3 separate regions of the Homo sapiens genome follow, and all the other regions are linked to region 2. The links come from fine-mapping of genetic effects on gene expression. A gene starts in region 2. Each other region holds a variant in brackets. All regions are shown on one strand. Distances are between the middles of the regions. Region 1 overlaps PGBD5 (piggyBac transposable element derived 5). Region 2 holds the start of PGBD5 (piggyBac transposable element derived 5). Region 3 overlaps PGBD5 (piggyBac transposable element derived 5).

What was found. PIP is the estimated chance that this variant, and not a neighbour inherited with it, causes the effect. A credible set is the group of variants that fine-mapping cannot tell apart.
Region 1: its variant is the best candidate, but not a certain one, in a credible set for the expression of PGBD5 in lung (TOPMed, PIP 0.79).
Region 3: its variant is the best candidate, but not a certain one, in a credible set for the expression of PGBD5 in prefrontal cortex (CommonMind, PIP 0.70).

The regions. Positions count from the first base shown.
Region 1 is chr1:230,339,821-230,344,820 of GRCh38, reverse strand. The region is part of intron 3 of PGBD5 (piggyBac transposable element derived 5); the gene reads left to right. Among named protein-coding and RNA genes, the nearest start is that of PGBD5, 84 kb to the left of the region's middle. The variant TCTCA/A (reference allele first, on the strand shown) is at 2,260.
Region 2 is chr1:230,424,053-230,434,494 of GRCh38, reverse strand. PGBD5 (piggyBac transposable element derived 5) reads left to right here and starts at 8,163. Exons shown (of 7, transcript NM_001258311.2): 1 at 8,163-8,897. The coding sequence starts at 8,567. RefSeq lists enhancers at 6,994-7,540, 7,541-8,088 and a silencer at 7,897-8,216.
Region 3 is chr1:230,318,477-230,328,140 of GRCh38, reverse strand. It overlaps PGBD5 (piggyBac transposable element derived 5), which reads left to right. Exons shown (of 7, transcript NM_001258311.2): 6 at 2,726-2,831; 7 at 4,521-9,664. The coding sequence ends at 4,716. Among named protein-coding and RNA genes, the nearest start is that of PGBD5, 100 kb to the left of the region's middle. RefSeq lists an enhancer at 212-331. The variant C/T (reference allele first, on the strand shown) is at 2,808.

The DNA of each region.
Region 1 (5,000 bases), 87 kb after region 2:
TCAGTGGAGGCAGGGCTTCAGGTTCACGCTGGGCATTGACATACTCCGGAAGTAGATGGGCATTAGAAGCCAGAATTCAAGATGGTAACCCCCAAGCAAAAGAACCCGTGCTTCCTACCCCCTGCACACATCATGGAATCTGTCCAGGCAGAGCCCTCATGACATCTGTGAGGGACACTCTGAATGAGGTCCGTGTGCCCTGTGCTGCTAAGCTAGCTGACCTGGAAGCCCCTTCCCTCCCTCAGTCTCATCTGTGGATTCTGGCAGCTGCTTCTGGCGTTCAGGAAAGAATGACGAACACTTACAGAGTGTGTGTTGTGGGCCAGGCTCTGTGCTTAAGCACTTCACATGCAGGATTCATTTTTTCTCCACAAGGGCCTTAAGAGGCAAGTAATGTCACCGCCACTGTTTCTTGGTAAGGAAACTGAGGCACAGAGAGATTTGCTGCCTTGCCTAAAATTAGATCTACAAAGCAGTAGACCTGGGATTAAACCCAGCCATTCTGACTCTAGATCTCACCTTCTTTTTTTTTTTTGGAGACGGAGTCTCCCTCTGTTGCCCAGGCTGGAGTGTAGTGGCGTGATCTCGGCTCACTGCAAGCTCCACCTCCTGGGTTCACACCATTCTCCTGCCTCAGCCTCCCGAGTAGCTGGGACTACAGGTGCCCGCCACCACGCCCGGCTAAATTTTTGTATTTTTAGTAGAGAAGGGGTTTCACTGTGTTAGCCAGGATGGTCTGCATCTCCTGACCTCGTGGTCTGCCCGCCTCGGCCTCTCAAAGTGCTGGGATTACAGGTGTGAGCCACTGTGCCCAGCCTGGATCCCACCTTCTTAACCACTAGGCTATGTTGACTCCTCCAAGGAGAGAACTTTTCCCGATTTAGACAAAAAGCCAAGTATCTTTTATCCAGCTTGATTGTTGGTAGGACAGTGGTCTAGCATCCACGTCACTAATTTCCCTTATTTTGAGACATACTATTTATGTTGAAAGAATTTAAAGAAGGTGCACTAAAGTGTTTTTTTCCTTATTTGACTCAGTCTTTTTACATACTAAGTGAAATATTTTGCTCTTGACCTATAACTAATTGAATTGGCTCTAAAAGTGAGGACCACTATGGAATTAATTGGCTGGAGTGAATTTTGCTTGTGGATTCAGAAGCTGGGCAGGGCAGGACATGTGTCCAGCTGTTTAATCGTGCAGTGAGGAGGATGCTGGCATGAGATCCTGTCCAGGTTGGACACGGTAAGTTGAGGATGGGATTGGCTGAGGCAGAAGACATAACCGTGGACCTCTTTGTGTCCTTGAGCAAGTAGCTGAGAACTACCTTCTTTCTCCACTTTTGAATGAAGTTAATCCACCCACACCTCTTTACCGTATAGGACTTCAAAGATGACAATAAAGTATTTATTAAGTGCCCAGGTAAGTGCACCAGCTACTGTGTGGATCAGATTCAACCCTCTCCCTAAAGAACTTCGACTCTTCAACTGCACAGACATGAGTGTGTACAGAGAGCCCACATGCTGATACATGTCCCTCCTCCAACCTGTCATTTTGAAAGAACCACCTCAGGCTTTGAGCTTTGGGATGAGATGAAGGCAAGGCTCCCACAGGGGTCAGCGGTGCTGAAGGTGCAGCCAGAGAGGAGAAGGACCAAGAACAGACTCAGCACATGAGCTCTTCCTGGGCATGGTCATGGTGAGAGGCCTGAGAGAGAAACTGGGCAATGAGAGATGAAAGTCATCAGTATGGTGATGGCTTAGAGACTTTGCTAGAAGCCCCAGCTAATACACAAAGATGACACAAGCAGCATTGTCCAGCAGGACTCTCTGCAATGATGGAAATGTTTCATATCTGCTCTCCATGATGGCAGTTCCTAGCCTCATGTGACTGTTGACTATTTGCATTGTGACCAGTGTGGCTGCGGGCCTGAATTTTTCATTTTAGTTAATTTAAATGTAAATGAAAACAGCCATATGTGGCTGAAGGCAACCACATTGGGAGCACAGTTACAGAGCTTTGCTATATTAAAAAATCACTTCTATGTGCACAATTTTCACTTAAAGACAAGGGCCTTGCAAGGTGCATATGGCAACGTTATCCTTACAGATAAGGAAAGCAAGGCTCAGAGCAATTAAGTAACTTGCCCCCAAACCCACAAGCCAGTGAATGACAGAGCCCGTGCCCATGTATCCTGGCACTCACCCTCCCTGCCTCAGTTCCTCTCATGACAAGTGACTGTCATTTACAATTCACAACTC[TCTCA/A]AGTGGCTGTCCCATGCAGATGTCCCAGGTGACAGCCGCACACACCCCGTGATCTCATTCTGCGTCTTCAGTGAGTGCAGATCGTGCACTGCTGTGCTGTTTCCACAGCTGAATTACTTTCACCTTCATAGCTCCTTGCACACTAGAGATAAGACTCAAGCAAAGGATCACCAGTCCCTACGATGTGATACCCTTCCCCCAAATATGCTCTTCACTGAGAAAATTGATTCTCTTCTGTGCTGAAAAAGAAGTAGGGTCATTCATTGGTCAAGACCAGTATAGCTGAACTGGGCTTTCTCCAGTTCTTTGTGTTAGAGAGGCAGGAGGGTGCCCGGATCCCAGCAACAGCTTAGTGGAACTATCAGCTGGTGAGTCAGCAGCTACTGCCACTAGCCTTACTGTTCTTTTGAGAAGTTGAGGGAAAAGATGAACTAGATCCTGTCTCTGGAGGTCGTGGGGGCATTTCAGGAGAGCTAAGATAAATCCCATGTGCTGTATGTGTCCCCCAGGGTATTAACTGCTATAATCCATAATTCCTAAGATCCTTTTTGTTGTAATGTCAGTATAAAATATGCAACATTAGGAATAATACCCTGGGGCAAAGTATAATGCCATATAGTAATAAACTTGCATGCCTACTTTCTTAAATATATATATATTTAAAAATCATAGGAGCAAAAAAACTTTTTAGGAAAAGTGAAAAGCTTGGCAACCACCAAATGGTACATTTTCCTGCTCTAGAGATACTTGTCAAGCAGTCTTGTAGCTCAGAAGTGTCTATAACTGGCTGCATTTTGCCCAGTGATAGGAAGTCACCTATGTCTACACACGTTGGTGGAACCATATTAGTATGATAGTGCTTTCTCTAGATATGTCTAGGGAGATATCTGACTTTTTGAAAAGCAGACCAGGAAGTAGTCACACATCTAAGTGAATGGTATTTCCTTCCGTGTCGTGTCTGGGGAGCTCTTGTAGAAAGTACCCAACCCAGTGTCTGAATACATGTGTGGGTTCCCAGTGATTCTGCTGTTTCTCAGATTACTGGCAGGATTCCTTAGGATTGTCTTTTAAACCTGGACGAGATCATTAGCATAGCTTGTATAGCTTAAGCATTTGTAGCAACAGAGCATGGATAGGATAAGACTTCACTGGAGGTTGCTCATCCAGCTAAGGGAAACAAGTTACTACCTTTGACCACTGACGTTATTCTGTCAAAGCAAACCAGGACCAGTCAGGTACCGGACCTGCCTGGCCATCAGACCAAGCAGTACCTCTTAGACTGGGCCTTTTCCTGGCCAGATTTTGACTGCCTTGCCAACAGTTTTTCCTAAATCATGCCCTCAACTGAGACTTTCAAGGTTACCTCTTTTTTGTATTTATTTAAATGAAGGTCCTATTTTATATTCACTTTTAGAAACTCATTATTTTATAGCAATGAGTGCCACACATTTGGGACTCTCTTTGGACTCTCATTGGTGCCACTTCTTGGCTGCATCCTTCTTCCAGATTTCCTAATAAGAAATCTTTGACCTTCGGCTCAGTGCCTGTCTCCTCTGGCTCAGTGCCTTTAGCTCAGTGCCTGTCCCCTTCTCCTGTGACATCCCAGTTGAGCGTCCACTTCTTCAGAAGAGGCTGGCTGGAGTCTGGAAAAATGGCAGTTTTCAGAGGTGCATGTGTGGACACGAGGCTGAGTAATTTCAAGGCAGTCCTGCGGCAGGACTGCCTTCCGTATTCTACCCAGGGATTGTAAAATCTCAGCTGCACATCACTGGCTTTTGGGAAAATGTGTTAATTCCAAGACAGCAAGAGGCTACCCTGATTCTCAGAGTCATCGTCATCTCCAGGCATGGAGATGATGAATAACCGTTCACTCAGACCCAAAGATACTGCAAATTCCAAATAGTCTTATGCTTGGGTAATCCTGATAAGGAAGTTATTTTATAATTATTTTTAGTGGGTTGTTTTCTGATTAAGTTGTATTACATATTTAGCATCAAAAACATTAAAAGCCCAGCATATCTGTCATTCTGATAAATACTTTTTATACAGAAATAGCCGCTTGAGTGTATAGTCAACATATATTTATAAACACACACATATACACACACTTGCACTGTTTTATAATCTGGCTACTTACAAGGATATTGTGAACATTTTCTATGTTATTAAACACTTTTTCTACATGATGATTTTTTAAAGTATATCACATTCCATTATACCTACATATATAATTTTAACCAGTCTGCTCTTCATGTAAGGTAGTTAGGTCATTGTTAATTTTTTTACCATTATAAAAAACCCTGAAATGGACATGGTATTTTATATATAAATCCTTTTAACACATTTCTGATTGTTACCTTGGATTGAATTCCTAAAAGTGAAACTCATGAGTAAAATAGCATGAATATTTTTAAGGTTTTTACAAAATTTATTTTTTAATTGACAAATAAAAATAGTATATTTTTATTGTGTACAACATATTTTGAAATATGTAGACACTGAAATGGCCAAATCGAGCCAACTGACATATGCATTACATCACATAGTTATCATTTTTTGTGGTGAGAACACTTAAAATCGACCGTCTTGGCAATTTCCAAGAATATATTGTTATTAACTTTAGTCACCATGTGGTACCATAGATCTCTTGAACTTATTCCTCCTATCTAACAGATTTTGAATTCTTTGACCAATACCTCCCCACTCCCACTTCCATCCCCCAGCCCCGTAACCACCA
Region 2 (10,442 bases):
CTCATGCCTGTAATCCCAGCACTTTGGGGGGCAGAGGCAGGTGAATCACCTGAGGTCAGGAGTTCGAGACCAGCCTGGCCAACTTGGTGAAACCCTGTCTCTATTAAACATACACACACAGACACACACACACACACACACACACACACACTAGCCGGGCATGGTGGCTCATGCCTGTAATCCCAGTTACTCGGGAGGCTGAGGCAGGAGAATCGCTTGAACCTGGGAGGCAGAGTTTGCAGTGAGCTGAGATCACGCCACTGCACTCCAGCCTGGGCAACAGAGCTAGACTCTGTCTCAAAAACAAAAAACAAAACAAAAAACAACCAACCAACCAAACAAACAAACAAACAAAAACAACCCAGTGTTGACCTTAAGTTGCACTTGTGCCATCCGTGAGGTTGTGAATTCAGGAGTGCTATGAAAGGCTCCCAGCTAGGAGTATCCCTCTCCGCTTCTTAGAATACCTGGGATCCTACTGCTAAGCACTTTGTTCATTTGTGTTAAGCACCAACCTGCAATTTCTCCTTTACAGGCAAATGCACTTCAGGGGTGGTACTTGTATCAGAGCCCTTCATTTCGTTGGGGAACAAGTAGAGTGGGGGTTGGGTGTGTTTAAAGTGGGAAGATGTAGCCAAGGGGACAGGGAAGAGACACAAGACAAACTTACAAAACTGGGAAAGGGGCTTTGGAATCAGCAGTGGCTCACTAAATTATCCCATTATCTAAGAATAGGAAGATCTATAATATTTTCCAAAATGTTTTTTTTCTTCACTCTAAATGTCTCATGATGTTTGCTTGTTGAAAAAAAATTAATTTCAAACCCTGGGAAAAAAAGGTAGGTTGAAACATTAATCAGAGTTATTTGTGCTGCTTCGCAGGTGTCTAGCTGCCTTAAATTACTTTGTGAAAATGTTAATTATCTAAACAACTTAAAATAGAAAAAAAAATCTCATGATAAGAAGCCATTTATCTATCTCCCAACTACTTCCTTTTTTTTTTTTTTTCTTTTGAGACAGGGACTGGGTCTGTCACCCATGCTAGAAGGCTGGAGTGTAGTCGTGAAATCATGGCTCACTGCAATCTCTGTTTCTTGGGTTCGAGCCATCCTCCCACCTCAGACCCCTGAGTAGATGGGACTACAGGCATGCATCACCACGCCTGGCTAATTTTTGTTTGTTTGTTTGTTTTTTGGTAGAGATGAGGTTTCACCATGTTGCCCAGGCTGGTCTTGAATTCCTTGGCTCAAGCAATCTGCCCATCTCGGCCTCCCAAAGTGCTAGGACTATAGGCATGAGCCACTGTACCCACCTCCATTTAATGTACTTTAATTCTTTCCCCCAAGTCCTCACTTGCTTCCTTTGCTGGCACAGATTCCATGCCCATCATTAGGATCAATCTCTCAAACTCTCCCACTCCGCCATACATATGTGTCAAAACCCCACTTTGGCAAAACCCAATCCATTGTCAACCCTGTTTCTGAGCCTGACAACTGAATGCAGTTAGAGAGAAACATAACGATGGTGGCCCATTTCAGGTTAAATTCTCAACCACAAATCCAGATTGTTTCTCTCTAGTCCATTGATCCTTGAACTCTCCTAGATAGCTATTTTGACTATTCCACACATTCTTTCCTCAAACTCCTAGCCCAGGGATCCTCAGTTCTGGCTGCACTGTTGAGTCACCCAGAAACCTTATAACACACCAGTGCCCAGGTCCCACCTCCAGAGAATCTAATTTACTTGGTGTGCTCTGGTGCAGTGGCTCATGCCTATAATCCCAGCACTCTGGGAGTCTGAGGCGGGTAGATCACCTGAGGTCAGGAGTTTGAGACCAGCCTGGCCAACATGGTAAAACCCTGTCTCTACTAAAAATACAAAAATTAGCCAGGTGTGGTGGTAGGCTTCTGCAATCCCAGCTACTTGGGAGGCTGAGGCAGGAGAATCGCTTGAACCCGGGAGATGGAGTTTGCAGTGAACCGAGATCGTGCCTTTGCACTCCAGCCTGGGTGACAGAGTGAAACGCTGTCTCAAAAATAATAGTAATAATAATAATTTACTTGGTGTGGATCAGGGCCCTGGATATGTGTTTTTGAAACTCCCCAGGTGATCCTAATGTACAGCCAAGAACGGAAGCTAAACTCCTCGCCCTCCCTTCATCAGGCAGAGCTCATGACCTGACTTCCCACTTCACTGAGAACATCAAATCAGTAAGGAAAGAACACCACAGCAGACTTCCACTAAATCTAGGAATGTGCCTGCACGAAGTCTTTACTTCACTGCCTTCTGCAATAAGACAAACCTTCTACTTGTGCATTCCAACTCGCCACCATTCAAGCAATCAAGGATTTTGCTTTGGCAACTGTTCCCTTTCTCTCCAGCATCTCTCCCATATCCTTTCTATTGAAACATTCCCACAATCATTCAAACATCTGATTTTTTTTTAAATCCCTCCCTCAACTCCTTAGTCCTGTTTGGCACCTCCCCTTTCTTCCTCCCTTTTCAGCAAAACTCCTCAAACTTTATATTGACTCAATACCCCCATTTCTTCTCCCATTCTCAGATCCACTCCAATCATAGTTTTGTCTGCTCACTGACAAACCCAGAAGTTAATTCTCAGTCCTCTTCTTATATCTCTTAGCAGCATTTGACAGTTATTTGAAAGTATTCCTCCTTGAAATACTTTCTTAGCCACCAGGACTTTACTTTGTCTCAATTCTCCAGCCTTCTCAGTCTCCTTGAGTGATTCATCTGCCTCATGTTTAGAAATCATGTGCTCTGGGAATCCCCCTCACACCCATTTCCTCCATATTTATGCTCCATCCACGGTGGTTTCATCCAAGATGTATCTACTGCCAGGTGCAGTGGCTCAGGCTTGTAATCCCAGCACTTTGGGAGGCCGAGATGGGCAGATCATTTGAGGTCAGGAGTTTGAGATCAGCCTGGCCAACATGGTGAAACCCCGTCTTACTAAAAATACAAAAATTAGCCCGGCGTGGTGGCAGGTGCCTGTAATCCCAGCTACTTGGGAGGCTGAGGCAGGAAAGTTGCTTGAGCCTGGGAGGCAGAGGTTGCAGTGAGCCCAGATCAAGCCACTGCACTCCAGCCTGGGTGACAGAATGAGACTGTCTCAAAACAACAACAACAACAACAACAAAGCAAACAAGATGTATCTACTATCTATCTGCTGATGGCACTCACAATCTTACCTCCAGCCTAGACCTGGATGAACTCCAGATTCCTGTTTTCAACTACCTGCTTTCCAGACCCACTCAGATATGTTAAACTCTACAGCTGAAAACCAAGCTATTGTTCCTCCCTTTCAATCCTGCTGCTCTTGCAGTAGCCCATGCAAACAACAAGAGCAAAGCCAAAACCATGGAGTCCTTCTCAACTCATCTCTTTCTCTCACTGTCCACATTTAATTCTTTCATAAAAGTTGTGGGTTCTACCTTCAAGACATATTCTGATCTGACCAATTCTCATCACTTCCATCACTCCCAGTCTGGTCCCAAATACCCTCTTTTATGGCCTGGACTATCGCAATAGTATCTGAACTGGTCTTCCTGATTCCACTTTTCCTCTGCTCCAATCTATTTCCCTCTAAGCAGCTAAAGAGAGGCCCTTAAAATGCAAGCCAGATCTTATTTGTCTGCTCTATGCTCTCCAGTGGCTCCCAATTTTACCCAAAATAAACTACAAAGTATTGCAAGATTTAACACCCAACTCTTCGATTTCATCTGCTACCACTTCCTCTCATCTCTGTCTCAACCACATCTGCCTCCTCATTGCTGACTGACCACAGCTAGTGTGCTCCTGCTTTGGGTGCTTTGCACTTGTTTCTCATCCTTGAATGCACATGGCTTGCTTCTTTAATCCATTGAAGGTTCTGCCCAAATGTCACCTTATCAGAGCAACTTCTCCCAACCAATTTATACAAGCTTGTGCACACACACACACACACACTCCACCACAATCACAACCACCATCAGTCTCTGTCCCTCTACTTTTTATCTCTTATCAACAACAGGTATATACATATTTACTGGGTTGTTTATTTTTTGTCTCTTCTCTCCCCACCCCCCGCCACCATTTCAATGTAAGTGCTATAAAAACAGGGTCTTCGTTCTTTTTCTCTGATTTATTTCCAGTGCCTAGAAGAGAGCCTGGCACATAATAGGACTCAATACATATTTGTTGAATTAGTGAGTGAATGAATGAATCAATCAATCAATGAAAAAGTCAGATCATCTCAATCTGAACACAAGGGAATTTTCTCGAGAGTTTTCCAGAGGATTGTCCTATTTCCTTCTTTCTGCCTCTCTGTGTTGGCTCCTAGATAAATTTACCACATAAAAGCACTGTGAGAGAGGTTGGACCCTTAGGTCCCTGCATTAGATATGACCCCAAATGTCACCCTGTGCCACGCATATTCTCCTCCGACCTCCTCCCCAACATGCGGGCCACTGTCCAGCAGCTGCACTCTTTCTCCCCCTACCCTCTCGCAGCCCCAGGAGCTTCTCCTTGGCTGTAGCCCCCTCCTTTTGGGTGATGAAGGCAACATGGGGAGAAGCAGCAGCTTCACTGACACCATCCCTGCCGTCTCCATCCAGAGTGACCAGCAACACGCAGACTTCTCAAGCCTCATCTGGCCTGTGCAGTCTGGAGCTGGCCAGGGCACTCTCTGCCACATTAGCATTCATGTTCATTTCTGTGTCCTGCCACAGCTTGACTATTTGCAAAATCAAGACTTGTAAAACTGCCGAGGAAAAATATATATACTGTATTCGATGGCTTCTAAGATGCCCACTTCCTTTTTTTCATATTTCACATCACTAACATCAGGAATGTCTTATAATTGGTGCTGGGCAAGTGAAAATCCCTGTGCAGTTAACAGAGTCTGAGTCTATGCCAACTTCATTGCTATTCCTAGGACATGCCTGACCTCATATACCCCTTGGTGTGCCAGGCCACAGGCCTGCTGAGAACCACTGGAAGAAGGAAATTGAATCTAGTTATTGTATGAAAACCTTGGATTAGGTAAAACAAAACAAAACAAAACAAAACAAACAAAACATCAGCATCAAGATCTTATTTCTCTGCTCTATGCTCTCCAGTGCCTCCCCATATCACTCCAAATAAAATCTGAAGTCTTGCAAGATTTAACACCCACCCAACTTCCTCTTTGATTTCATCTGCTACCACTTCTCTCTCAGCTCTGTCATCTGCCTCCTCAGTGCTGGCTGACCACAGCTAGCATGCTCCTGCTTGGGGGACACATAGAGTGGGAGGCCAGTAGCTTGGATGAGTTAGGAGCACTTGTGTAAGAAATGCAGCATACCAAATGCTCTGAGTGACTTGGAGGAGCATATTCTGGAGAAAACCTGGGCATTGACAGCTCTGAGTTAGAAAGTAAACAAGGATAGTGAGATTCTGAATGTGAAATTCGGAAAACTTTAATCAATTAATTTATATTTTATCTGTATGCATGCAATAGAGTGATACGTAATAAAAATCTGTCCAAAAATTATGATCAAATAGCTTTTTCAATAAGTTTAAATTATAATTAGAACAGAAAAGGAACCATTGTATCATAGTTTCCTATGGCAGCACTTTTTTCTTTTTTAGTGATACATAAAACAATGGTTCACTGTACCATGAAAGGAGGTTTAGACTTAATGAAATATGGTGCTTAGCCCTAGTTACATAAAAGCATGAACCATTGGTTTAACAAAACCTAAGGAATCTACTACACAAATGAATTGCTTTTTACTACCTTGAGCTGTTTGGGAAAACCATAAAACCAAAAGCTCAATATTAATCTAAAATTATTTAATTATATTTTATAATTAAATTATTTGGAAGATGTTTTCAAATGACTCAAAGTTAAAAGATCTCAGTGTGATATATATTCTATAATTACTCTCAGAAATGATGTTACTAATAAAAGTTAATGATGTAGAATCATAATCGTCATTATCAAATAGGAGGATGCCAGCCAGAGGAGAAAGCTTTTGTTTTGCAATTGTTTTGTCCCCTCACTCCTTCTCTTACCACAGTGAGAAGCAGTCATCTGTTTTCAAAGGTTGGAATGTTTTTACTTTTCTTGTTTGGAAACTGGCTTAAACAAATGTAAGTGCTATAAAATACTTCACTCTAAGTTGAAATATTCATCTAATTTTTATTGGACAAGCTTTGAAGTAACAATTTGACTTCTCAGTGTTTCTTTTGTGTCCATATAATCCTCTCCTCAGTGTTGCATGTGGTGTGAGCTACAAGCATTTGTGAGCCTAGGAAGCACAAGGCCCCAAGGTTTCCTGGGAATTAGCACCATACAAATGCAAATTAGGGACACCGGAAGACTCTGTCCATCCTTGCCACTGCTGTTGTTTTGTTCCTTGGTTCCTTATGGGTAGCAAAGCAATTCATCGTTTTTAAAACACGTACCTTAGCTGTTGACTTTTTCATTGGCTAGCTGGAGAAGAAAAGAAGGAACTCTTTCCTACAGATTTTAACTCTCTGAATCCCATTCAATTATTTTTTCCATTCAACTATTTAAAATAGATAACATGAAATCTTGCAGGAGCCTCACACAATTCCTAATTGCAGAATTTGAACTTGAGCTATGGAGTCTTACTCTTCTTCTTGCATCTTCAACCTATGCTTTACTATCACCCTTTTTGATAAGTCAGATTACCTGTACTCTCTTCAACAACTTTCAGCTGGTTAGCACAGTATATAGGTATGTTGGAAACCAGATATTTTCCGTGGCATAATTCTTCCAAGAGAGTAAAAATGCTTTGCAAGCACTTCCTCATTTTTCAGCCAATCCACATAGCAAGGAAAGTTCCATGAATCTTTTCCTTTTTATATATTGTCTGTTAGTGATGATCATGAACCTATGCCTGTGCAGAGCCCCTGATGTGGAAGGAGGAACCACAGGGGCTGGGGAGGGGAGGGCATGAGTGAAGGTTCCTGCTCGACACTAGAAGTGACCCCACTTGGCGGCAAAATGGTCCTTCATCCTTTATGCATTCGTAGAAATCGCAACATGCCTTTCTGTTTCATGTAACTACAATTTAGTTAATGCTCAGTAGGATTTGTAAGCCCTTCACATCTCTGAGGATTTATTTTATTTCAGAGTGAAAGTGACTTTATGGCCCATTTACCATTAGTGTGACTTATTGCATTATTCGAAGGAGGAGGAGGGGAGCAAGAAGACAAGGCAGTCTCCGTTACGCGTATCGCCATCAACAGGATGACCACCACACATTCCTGCCCAAGGAAGAGGGGCGGATGCAACCTTTCTGTGCTATTGTTTATGAGAGCACTGAAGCCTGGGTGATCATGCAATATTTCAGTACATGAGTGTTTCAAGTGTGTGTGTGAAGGAGATATTAAAATAGAGGTGTGAGAGTAATTAGTATTTGGAAGTAATGGATATTTTGAGTTCAAAAGATGCCACACGTCAACGATGATGAGGAATGACTAGCTACTTAACTCCAGTGCTGGCACCCTTAAATTACAGGGATACTGAAGCGAGACGGAGTTAGCATCTGACCAGCGACCAACAGTGGACCGGCGAGGCGGGCTCCTAATTAGAGCGAGATTCCCAGAAGCTGGACAGCCCCTGTATTTATGGGAGCATGCGGCGCAGCTGGCAGTGACCCCCAGGAAACCTCGGCAGCAGCCGCCGCCGCGGGTGTGGTGACCTCGGGCCCGCCGCCTACCTGGAGCGTTTCGGCGGCGCCTGGTTCAGAACCACCGGGGCGGACAGCTCCCTGGAGCTGCACGCGGACTGCGGAAGGGGACAGTGAGCGGGATCGGCCCGCACTCCGTCCGCGGGCCCGGACCGCTGGAAGCACCCGGGTCCCCCTCCCCTCCTGTTCCCCGGTCCCGCCCTCCCCCTCCCGCGCTGCGCGTGGCGGTCCCGGGCTGCGCGTCCCTGTAGGAGGAGACCGGCACTGCCGCCGGCGGCCCTCCCCCTAACCGCCAGCCCCGGCCGCGCGCCCCGCCCCGCCCCGCGGAGGAGGGTGGGGGCGTTCCCCGCGCCGGGCCCGCCCAGCTCCCCCGCGGCTGTCCGGGCCGGGCTCCCCATTGGCCGGCGGGCGGGAGGTGAGGGGCGGCAGGGCCCGCCTCTGGCGGCTCGCGCCCGGGAAGGTCGGCAGCCGAGCGCCGGAGGCCGTGGAGAGGGCGGGCAGGGAGGCGGCGGGCGCCGAGGAGACGCAGCGGCGGCGGTGGTGGCGGTGGTGGCGGCGGTGGCGGCGGCGGCGCCTGGTCTCGGCCGCAGCCTCTGCGTCCCGCCCGCTCTGGGTCGCCCCTGCCAGCCCCGCGCGCGGCTCGCCTCCCGCCGCGGCCCGCAGCCTGCGGCGCCCGAGCTCCGAGGGCGCTTCCCCGGGCGCTGGGCCCGAGGCGGCCAAGACGGCGGGCCGGCCGGGCACGGGGCGGCGGGCGCTGTGCTGCGGGCTGCGCTGGTGGGGGGCGGCGGGCCGCGGCGCGGGCCCAGGGCCCGGCGTGTGCGGCTGGGAGGCACTGTGGGGGCGGGCGCGCGGGCGGCGGCCGGGGCCATGGCCGAGGGCGGCGGGGGCGCGCGGAGGAGGGCGCCGGCGCTGCTCGAGGCTGCCCGCGCGCGCTACGAGAGCCTGCACATCTCGGACGACGTGTTCGGCGAGTCCGGCCCGGACAGCGGCGGGAACCCCTTCTACAGCACCTCGGCCGCCTCGCGCTCCTCCTCGGCCGCCTCCTCGGACGACGAGCGCGAGCCCCCGGGACCCCCAGGGGCCGCCCCGCCACCGCCCCGCGCCCCGGACGCACAGGAGCCGGAGGAGGACGAGGCCGGCGCGGGCTGGAGCGCAGCGCTGCGGGACCGCCCGCCCCCGCGCTTCGAGGATACCGGCGGTAAGGGGCTGCCCGCGGGTGGATGTCGGGGGCGGCGCTGGAACCGGGCGCGGGGGAGGCGTGGGTGCTGGGGCGGGCGAGTCCAGACTCTCCGTGGGCTGGCTTGTGGGTGTCTCTCCGGAAACAAATGAGGCTGCAGGAGCGGTGATCGGTCTGACTGCTCCTGGGGGCTCCGAACCCGTGGGTGGAGAGGGTAAGGCGGAGGCCGTGGCCAGCACTTTTCCAGTGACAATGTCGTCGGGGACCTTTTCCTTCACTTCCTGGGAGCACCCCAGCCCCTGCATGGGAAGTCTGTCACACCTGTGGGTCGGACTTTTAGGGGTGGATTGAAGTTAGGCTTTCCTAGTTGAGGGGGCTTTTCTGAAAGCCCGGCGTGGCTGGTGGAGGCAGGGGGAGTCGTTTTTTCACTGACAGCCCAAGAGCAAGCCTTACAGCAGGTGACGCGGGCGAGGCAGGTAGGAGTTGGCCCAGTGAGAGTTGAGAGAGAGGCCACCCGCGGCGTCTTGACTTGGCTTAGTTTTCTCCTTAATCTGAGAAACTTTCCCTGTCCGCGCCATTCCAGATCTCTTGTTAAGAATGGGGAGGAGTGAAGGAAGGGACCGATTGGGCAGCGTTAAGGTGCTTGCTTTTCCGCCAGAAGGTACTTTCAGGTGTGTCCTGCTTACCACTGTGGCCACAGACAAGCCCCGAATACCTGGAGAAGGTGGCTAGGGTGCTGGCAGCTGCGGCTGCCCCACTCCTCTTCACTGTCTGTTTTTGTGGGAGTTGGCTGTTGAAATATCACCACTTCCTCTGCAGAAGCTCCGCAGCCTCTGCCTTCTTTGAAAGCTGCAGACCAGCCGCCCTCTCATGCTGGTATTTCTTGTTCCACGGCCTTCTGTAGCAGGCCCGTGCTCCTGCATGCTGTGTTCTTCCGTAGAAGTGCGCGCAACCGGTGTTGATGAGGGCCAGGGAGTGGCCGCGGTGGGCATGATGCGGCTTTTCCTGTGGCCTTCTCTGATTATTGTTCAACCGGTCAGGAACACGGCACATGGGAAGGCAGGCCCAAGGGACCTCCAGCTGGTGCCTGGACTTGGATCTGGGCATCATGCTGCAGCCTGCTGGGAGGCCGGTAGGGTTAGCTGGACTCTGAGTAGGGAGTGGTCTGCAGACCTCTGGCAGGCTGCGGTGTGGATGCGCGGAGCTAAAGCTGGGCTTGCAAAGTCACAGTTAGCTGTGCACTGCTTTGGGGGTGGGTACATTTTAAAGCATGTGCATTTGGGCTGTAGTTAAGAGCTTGGGAATTTTCAAAATCATTGACTCTCTATAGTCCTTTTATACTGTCCTATATTTTCCAGGATGTCATTAAGGTCTCCTGGCCCTAGACAGCTGTTTTCCTATTGGCTCTTTAAGAATTGTACCAGTCCACAGACCTGGTTTGGCAGACTTTATGCCGTGAGCATCTGTGATGTAATTTCGATCCTGGAACATTTGAGATCCAGGTCCACCTGGGACTGCACAGCAAGTCTCTGCGTGTCTCAGGGCGAAATAGAGAACTTGTGCTAG
Region 3 (9,664 bases), 110 kb after region 2:
TATGGGGACGGGTCTATGGGAAACCCCGAGATCTTCGGAGAGCGGCCATGACTCACCGGAGACACTAATGACTCAGAGCGGGGCATCCTGAGTTCCGGGAAAAGAACTAAGGGGATTTGCATTTCTTTATAGGGATGGTCTCACCTGCTCACATCCAAGTGGAACCCTACAGAGGCCAGAGCCTCCTGTGACCCAGAGAAGGTTGTCATTGGAGGTCAGGCAAATCAAAACATAGCTGGAGATGGGAGACCTGCACGGGCCACATGCTGTGGCCCCAAGTGTGACAAGGGGTTACTCCTACTCGGTCTTGGAGGCAGAGGCAGCTGAGATAAGGGGCCGGGGACAGGAATCCTCAGGAGGGGCGTTGGAGAGAGACGGCAGTCCTTGGGCACTGCAGGCCCGCACGCCCTCCCTGGCGCCTGGTGCGCTGAGCCCTGGAGAACGCCCCCTCTGCAGGCTCCCGACAGCAGAACATCTCTCAGGAGGAGGGGCTCCATAAGCAAGTGAAGGAGGCCATAGTCTTCCGGCCAGGAGGAAGCTCCAGTGTGGGGGCCGCCATGGTTTTCTGGCCCTTGGATAGCTTTAGGAAACTCATTGCCAGGGCCCCTTCCCCGGTCCTGCGTCTCTAGGGCAGGCCTTGGCAGCTCAATTTCCCACAAGCTGGCCAGTGTTTCTTCCATGCGAAATGCTGCTGTTTCTGAGGAAAGAAGGAAAGAGTCCGGCTCAGTGTATGTAAGCAGATCTGCGCGACCCTGGTCTCCTCAGCCACGGTCCCTCAGTGAGAGTTGTGGGGGTGGGAGGGGGCTGGCCCCAGATGAAGCTCCTGTGGACCTGCAAAGGACATGCCCGTTTGACTTTGACCTTGTCCATTTAAGTATTGCTGAAATTTCACAATCCTGTGAGCCAATGCCTTAAAAAAAAAAATACAGAAAAATGGCACTGTGCCCATAGTCCCTTGCTGCTGTGAGGGAAGGCCAGTTCAAGGAAACAGTAGGTCAACTCCAGCCACTCTCGAATGGCCGCGGCTGTTAGGAAGAAGGCGTCCGTCTCATCTTCCGTGTTGTCTGCGGTGGGTGGCGCATAGGGCAGGCCTGGGAAGCCAGAATGACCAGCAGTGGCTTGGCAGCGGGGCAAGGAGGGCTCATGGGTCTCCGTGTGCTTCTCAGGCCCTGCTGGTAGGATTTGTTCATCTTGCCATGACCTTTGCGGTGCCCCTGGGATGCATTCCCAGTTGTACTTAGTAGAGGAAAAGGTGTTTGAGGGTGTAGGGCCCCCAAAGTTCGAGGAGGCATGAAAGGACGGAGCTGGGGGATGGGAGGGTTGAAAAGGACAACCTCCTCCTTCTTCTGAGCCTCTAATTCCTTTTGGCTGCGCGTGGAGGCTCGCACATGTAATCCCAGAGTTTTGGGAGGCCCAGGTAGAGGATCACATAAGGCCAGGAGTTTGAGACCAGCCTAGGCAACATGGTGAGACCTAGGCAACATGGTGAGTCTCTGTTTTAAAAAATTGTTTTAATTAGCTGGGCATGGTGGCATGTACCTGTGATCCCAGCTCCTTGGGTGGCTGAGGTGGGAGTATCCCTTGAGCCCAGGAATTTTAGGCTGCAGTGAGCTATGATCATGACACTGCACTTCAGCCTGAGTGACAGAGCAAGACCTCATATCTAAAAAAATAATGATAATAATTCCACCCTTTTGCTTTTTTATTTTTTATTTCATTTTGAGATGGAGTTTCGCTCTTGTCACCCAGGCTGGAATACAATGGCAGCGATCTCAGCAAACCGCAACCTCGGCCTCCCAGTTTCAAGTGATTCTCCTGCCTCAGGCTCCTGAGTAGCTGGAATTACAGGCGCCTGCCACCGTGCCCAGCTAACTTTTGTATTTTTAGTAGAGATGGGGTTTTGCCATGTTGGCCAGGCTAATCTCAAACTACTGACCTCAGGTGATCCCCCCGCCTTGGCCTCCCAAAGTGCTGGGGTTACAGGCGTGAGCCACCGTGCGCAGCCTCCTTTTGCTTTTTTAAATTGACAAACAATAATTACACATTTTCACGGGGCACATAGTGATGTTCTGCTACATATAATGTATGGAGATCAGATCAGGGTAATTAGCATATCCATCATCTCACACACTTATCGGGGGATTTATTAAAGGATGCAAAACCACAGCCTAGATGGGAGGAGTGAGGTCTAGTGCTCTGTGCGGGGTGACTCTGCAGTCACCCTGTGTGGGGTGACGAGTTGCCGACACCCCTTGGCTTTGATGAAGGCAGGTGGAAAGGGCTCCATGGTGCTGTCTGACCTCAGCCACCACCTCTTCTTCCTAGCATCCCTCACCCAGCCTGGCAGAAGGGGGAGGGAGGGAGGAGTGAGCCCTGTCTCCGCTTTCACTCTTTCAAGGCCCAGTCGGATGCAGCACCCTTCCCCATGCTGCTTAGAGCCCCTTCAGGCCTGCCAGGATCCTAGAGGCCTGTAAACCCCATGACTTGGGGTGCTGTGTCTGGGCCAGCGCATACCATGGCACTCACCTGACTGATGCTTTCCTCAATCCCTCTGAAGCACCTGGTGGTTGGTGCTGATTGTTCTTCTTCAACTCTTCCCTCCCCTCCTCCTCCTCTGCTCATTATTAAGTTGGGAGCAGCTAAGCTGGACGAAGATAGGCACATTTATAAAGTGGCATTAGGAGGAGGTGCTGAGGAAGGGGCTTATCTTGTCTCTCGCCTTCAGGAGTCATCATCAAAAGGAAGAGTGGGGAGATCCCATGCCCCTTGGCCGTGGAGGCGTTTGCCGCTCACCTGAGCTACATCTG[C/T]AGATACGATGACAAATACAGCAAGTAAGTGGCTGGGCACCTCCATGACAGAAGGGCTCTCATAGTTGTGCCGTCTCGGAAGAGATGTAATGGCAGATGATCACTAGTTTCCCCAGTGTAAGAACTGCAGGATGAAGACCCTGGGAGGTAAGATCCTGCCCTCAGCCTGGGCTTCTGGGCCTCGCCTGTGCACACATGGCTTTACCTAGAAGTCCTCTGCCCAGGTACTCTGTGTCCTCCACTCTCCCAATGCTGGGTTCACATTCCCTGTGCCCAGAGGCACCCTTTCCTTTGCTTACTGAACTGAACTGTCCCTCAGCAGTGAGCTCAAACTCCAGCCGTTGGCATCGCTTGCCCCAGTCCTCTATTCTGAATTGCTGTCCTCCTTCCCCACACCCCTAACACACTGGGCATCAGCTCGGGCACTTCTACCCCAAGTCACATGTGTTCTAGCACGGGTGCCTTAATTTTCTCAAATATGGATGCCTATTTAGATCACCAGATGTGGTCTCATGTTCAATATACACATAGTATGCATAGTTTACACACAGCATAGACAAGATCCACAATGTGCGGACGTCCAGACACCCACGATGCCACCCCTGACCTCGTGCCATTATAGCCACCATGATGGGAACTCAAAAAATGACGACTATTGAACATTGAAACTATTAAATTACTGGGATTGAGCCTTACCACTTAGAACAGGGTTGGGCTAACTCAAAATCAGATATTGACTGAACCTTCTTTGAGGGTAACCTGTACTTCCTGGCCTTTTTCATGATAAAGAGGGAAAAACAAGGACCTGGTTCTCTCTGGAAAACTCAGCCTGTGTGTGAAAGGTAGTCCCACTCCTTGGGGATTCATTGAACAAGTCTTTGTTGAACGCCCACTATGTGCTCAGCACCTTACTAAATTCCATGAGGTTGTTACAAAGACATTGGCATTCAGTTCACTGAGCACCTACTATGTACTGGCACCTTGCTGTGTTCTATGAGGTTGTTCTAAAGCAGCTGGCATTTGTGGGGTAGATGTCTGTCGTGCCTGCTCTGTGCTGGGCATTTCAGACATAGTGAGATATTGAGGATACCGATCCTCCCATACTTTATACAGGGTGCAGAGGCAAACTCACAAATGGAGAAGACAGTGCAGTGAGTGAGGCCTGAGGCTAGTGCTCCCAAGAAGGCCAGTGTTCTCAGGGTCTGGGTGGGCTTCCCGGAGGGGTGACCTGTGTGCCTTCATCTGCAGGGATGGTGGGGATGGCAAAGGTACATTCGGGAGCAGGGGAATGCCCTGCAGGGGCCTGGAGCTGAGGAAGAGCTTGGCCTTGGGGGAGTGTCAGCTGCACAGCACGTACAGAGCACAGCTTTGCAAGGAGCATTCAGCAAGCAGGGAAGCTGGAGAGGCTGGCAGGCGCCTGTCCACTCCGGGGCTGTGCGCCACCCCAGCACACCTGGCACCTGGCTTTCAGGGTCTACTCCAGCAACCTTGTTGTTTTCATTTCCTTGGTCTTAAATGAAGTTCACTGTGACAAAACCCCCAGCTGGAACTCACCTAACATCCCAAGCCTGACTCCTGCCCCCATAGCCCTCCTGCTTCTGTCGGGGGCGAACCTGCAGCGTCTCACGGGCTGTGGTGAGGGGGGGCCTTTGGGATGCATCTCCGGGTGCCATGAACCATCGGGTCAGCCGTTCTTATTCCCTCTGTCCTCAGGTATTTCATTTCTCATAAACCAAACAAGACCTGGCAGCAGGTGTTCTGGTTCGCCATCAGCATCGCCATCAACAATGCCTACATCCTGTACAAAATGTCAGACGCCTACCACGTGAAGAGGTACAGCCGGGCGCAGTTTGGAGAGAGACTCGTCAGAGAGCTGCTGGGCTTGGAGGATGCCTCTCCGACCCACTGATGCTGGGGGCGCAGGACTCGGTCAAGGGAGGGGCAAGAGGAGGAGGAGAGCCTGCCGTTCCAACTTGCCCATCAGAGACCCGGACACGGCCTGGTGTGTGGCTTGCTGCCTGGGAGGGATGCACAGGGCCTCTGGAGGGACAGGATGGACCTGGTCAGAGGACGGTTGCTGTCCTCATTTGCATTCCAAGAAGAGCATGTCCTCCCTCGAGAAACAGTGCCGCCGGTGTGATGAGCACTTACACCCACGTTCTCAAGGGCAGATTCTCTCATGACATCCGTGGAGCTTGCGAGGCAGCGTGGACTGGTGACTGTGAAGGAAGGCCCCCGTGGTAGAATGAGCTGGAGCACGCTCTAAGAGAGATGCCTGCTTCCTAAAGATCTACAGCAATCTGGGACGTGGTTCAAGTTCAAGACTTGAAGGAAGCAAAGACGCCCTGCATGGTTACAATGGCTCAGGTGTCAGGGGAGGCCGGAGGGTTTTCCAGCATTTGCCTCATGCCAGCACCTTTGAACCGGTCTCTTAGAAGAAGACACACATCCTGGGTGTACAGTGGTGAAATGGGGAGTGGGTGCCCATTCTGAAAAACGAGGCATTCCTGCTCATTCCCTCTGCTTAGCTGGTGGGCAGGGGAGAGAGGGAAATGCCAAAAACTTGGAGTGAAGGATGATGCTATTTTTTATTTTTAAATATATCTTCAGGTTATTTTCTTACTGTTGCTTCAGATCTAATGTAAAAGGCAGATGTCCCCTCCTCTCCACCCCCGACGCTGACCCCGGCCTCAGTCACGGCTCTTTGCATGATCACAGTTCTGTGTTCTGGCCTGTGGCAGGGCCGGGAAGGGCCGCTGGCTTCCGAACAGACGTGGTTGCTCTCCACGAGGCGCATGGGGAGCCCGCGGGCCCTAAGCTTTGTCGCAGATGTCATCATTGGCAGAATTACTTGTCTTGAAAAATAAGTAGCATTGCTGAAACACACAACCGAATTCTCTACGATGGCCATTTGCTCATTGTCTTTCCTCTGTGTGTAGTGAGTGACCCTGGCAGTGTTTGCCTGCTCAGAGTGGCCCCTCAGAACAACAGGGCTGGCCTTGGAAAAACCCCAAAACAGGACTGTGGTGACAACTCTGGTCAGGTGTGATTTGACATGAGGGCCGGAGGCGGTTGCTGACGGCAGGACTGGAGAGGCTGCGTGCCCGGCACTGGCAGCGAGGCTCGTGTGTCCCCCAGGCAGATCTGGGCACTTTCCCAACCCAGGTTTATGCGTCTCCAGGGAAGCCTCGGTGCCAGAGTGGTGGGCAGATCTGACCATCCCCACAGACCAGAAACAAGGAATTTCTGGGATTACCCAGTCCCCCTTCAACCCAGTTGATGTAACCACCTCATTTTTTACAAATACAGAATCTATTCTACTCAGGCTATGGGCCTCGTCCTCACTCAGTTATTGCGAGTGTTGCTGTCCGCATGCTCCGGGCCCCACGTGGCTCCTGTGCTCTAGATCATGGTGACTCCCCCGCCCTGTGGTTGGAATCGATGCCACGGATTGCAGGCCAAATTTCAGATCGTGTTTCCAAACACCCTTGCTGTGCCCTTTAATGGGATTGAAAGCACTTTTACCACATGGAGAAATATATTTTTAATTTGTGATGCTTTTCTACAAGGTCCACTATTTCTGAGTTTAATGTGTTTCCAACACTTAAGGAGACTCTAATGAAAGCTGATGAATTTTCTTTTCTGTCCAAACAAGTAAAATAAAAATAAAAGTCTATTTAGATGTTGATTCTCCGTTAATACGTGAATTCGTTTAAAAGGTCAGGGAACAGGCGGGGTGCGGTGGCTCATGCCTGTAATCCCAGCACTTTTGGAGGCTGAAGCGGGCGGATCGCTTGAGTCCAGGAGTTTGAGACCAGCATTGGCAACATGGCGAAAGCCCATTTCTACAAAAAATACAAGAATTAGGTGTGGTGGCACATGCCTGCAGTCCCAGCTACTTGGGAGGCTGAGGTGGGAGGATCTCTTGAGCCACTGCACTCCAGCCTGGGTGACAGAGCCAGACCCTGTATCAAGAAAAAAAACAAGGTGAAGGAACAAAAATACAGGCTACTCTTTTAAATACTTGATTTTTTTTGTTATATAATCTGGTGTGTATGATATTAACTGTTCTTGGTGTCTCAAACCACTGAGCAGTTTAAAAAAGAAATGTTTTTGAGTTTGGCTAATAGAAATACCTCTTGATGTTGCAGTTGTATGAGTGCAGTTGTATTTGAGGTGCCTGTTTCATTGAAGACACTAGCAGGCCTGCCTTCCGGCCTGGTGGTTTTCCCTCTTTTCTTCTAGTTTGTGTCGTGTGTCATTCCAGATGAGCAGGAAGAGGTGCTGTTCTGACAGGCAGTGGGTGGCTGCATTCCCCAGTCATGAGAGAATAATTGTAACATTGTAACACTCTGTTTCTAAAATGGCAGCCACCTGTTGTCTGATACATGATGGGAAAAGGCAGCTGTTGAGCCGGGTCTAGGGGAGGCTTCAGTGGCCACTTCAGGTCTCTGGAGGAATGCTGTTGACTGAGAAGAGTTTCTCTTCTCCATCCAGAAGGACAGAATAGCATGTAGGACGGACTGACAGAACCTCCAGGGACCTGGACCTTGCCTTAGAGATGTGATTCAAAGTGGCTTTTTGGAGTGACTCTAGTTGAAGTGCATCTGGTTCCAGTATCTCCCTGGGTTCAACAGCCCTCAGGTTGATTCTTGATTGGCTTTGGAGTAGCTGGCCATCCCTGGGGATGAGGAAAGAGCATCGTAAGTGGTCTTATGACAGAGGGAGCCAGCATGGCCCTGGCTGAGTATATGGGGCTGGCAAGCACCACTGCACACATGGCAAGTGAGAGCCCATTCCACTCAGATCCAGCCACTAAGCCAAGCCGATCCCCTGAGGGATGTCTCTGCTGCAGGCTCTGGAAAAAAAAGATGGAGCAATGAGCTTCCCAGCCTTATGCAAAACAAAACACCCACAAAAACTTCCAAGCTTCTCCAAAGAGAATCTGCATTTCCCTGCAACTCACAGGGAATTGAACCTGCACTGAGCTTCACGGAGTTTATGAGACCTTCCCATTACTGCAGTTGTGTTGAGCGTCCCGTGAGGTCCTTCTTAGGCAAATTTAACTTCATTGAGTGAATGTCTGTTTCTGTTTGGTGCCTACTTGATCAGGTTCCATATTCGACTTTCATTGTCTTTCCCCACACTCTGCTCCCTAAAGAGCCTCGATTTTGGCCAGGTGCGGTGGCTCACACCTGTAATCCCAGCACTTTGGGAGGCCGAGGCAGGCGGATCACAAGGCCAGGAGATTGAGACCAGCCTGGCCAATATGGTGAAACCCCATCTCTACTAAAAATACAAAAATTAGCTGGGTGTGGTGGTGGACACCTGTAGTCCCAGCTACTCGGGAGGCTAAGCAGGAGAATATCTTGAATCCGGGAAGCAGAGGCTGCAGTGAGCCAAGATCGCACCACTGCACTCCAGCCTGGGTGACAGAGCGAGACTCCAACCCCCACCCCGCCACAAAAAAAAAAAAAAAAAAAAAGCCTCGAGTTTGAACAACGTCTTCCCGTGGTCCATGGGACATTATACTAGGGACATCTTTCAAAAGTCAGGCAAGTCATATGGAAAAGTCTTGGTGGCTGGGTCATTCTGAGCAAACACATCCAGTACTGACTAAATCAGATGAGGCTTGGTCACCAAAATTGAGTTAACTCTGCTGCGTGCAAGAAGCAAGAAGATTGCAGGTCCCCAGGACAGAGCCTGGAAGGTTCTGAATCCTTCCTGTGTGGCCCGTGTGTCACCATCCTCCCCAGGGACCCAGGCTCAGCCCCCCCAACAGTGAGGGGGGGTCACCAAGCATCAGGCTGAGAGGAAGCAGGGCAAACCCGGGAGGGCCATGGGGCCTTGCAACTACGCAAGCCTCACACATTCTCCTCCAGTCTGCATTCATGGCAAAAAAAAAACATTTCCCCACTTGCCTGGGATTGGGGCGAGAACAAGTCAACGACACTGATGGGGGAGAAAGGTGACCTTGGGTGTGGTACCTCCCAGATCTGTCTCCTGCATCCTCGCAGGTGCTGTGTTTGAAAGGTATGACAGCGGTGGCTAACAGGCAGGCACACTTCCAGGCGGCTTGGGGTGGCCCTTCTGCCCCAGAGCCTTACTCCTCACAGGGATCCCTGTGGGTTAGGCATGGACTGTCACCACGCCCAGATGGAGTGGTGCAATGGTTCGCCCAGGTAAGCAGACCCGGGTTTGCCTGACGCAGGAGGCCGCGTCCTAACTGCTGTGGGCACTGGCTGTCCTGATTCATCACGAGGACGGGGGATTTTATCCCTGACTTACCTGACAACTTTGTGGGGGATTTTCTCCTTTCCATATCCAATCCTCTCTGCTGATCCGAATACTGAAAACAATCATTATGAGATCCGGGACATCACCCTCCCCCTGGGTCCTTTTCTTGTCCTAGATGGAGATGGGTGTTTTGGAGCTTAACAACTACTGAAGCTGAAGTTAGCCTGGTAGGGAGCCACTATTCTGGGGGGCATTTGGACAGGGCAAGCCCTTGGCCACACCAGACCCTGAGCCAGAAAGAACCATAGCGATTTCCTCACCCAGATGGCCCCAGCTCACAGTATGGGGAGAGTGGGATGGGGTGGGGGAGTGGAGCCAGCTGTGGGGTCTCATCAGAGTGCCCTGGGATCTAGGCCAGAGGCGCCGTCTTCACCCACATGCCAGCTTTGTGGTTCTGGTCCCTCTTCCTTAAGCGAGGGCTTGCCAAGCTTTGGCTGTGGAAAGCCTTAGCCTTGTGTAGTGGGAGTTCCAAACGAAAGAAGTCCCCAGAAGTTCACAAGGTAGTGGCCAGGGAAAGTGTCCCCAGTGCCCCCTCCCCACCGGTGGCCTCTGCAGCTTGC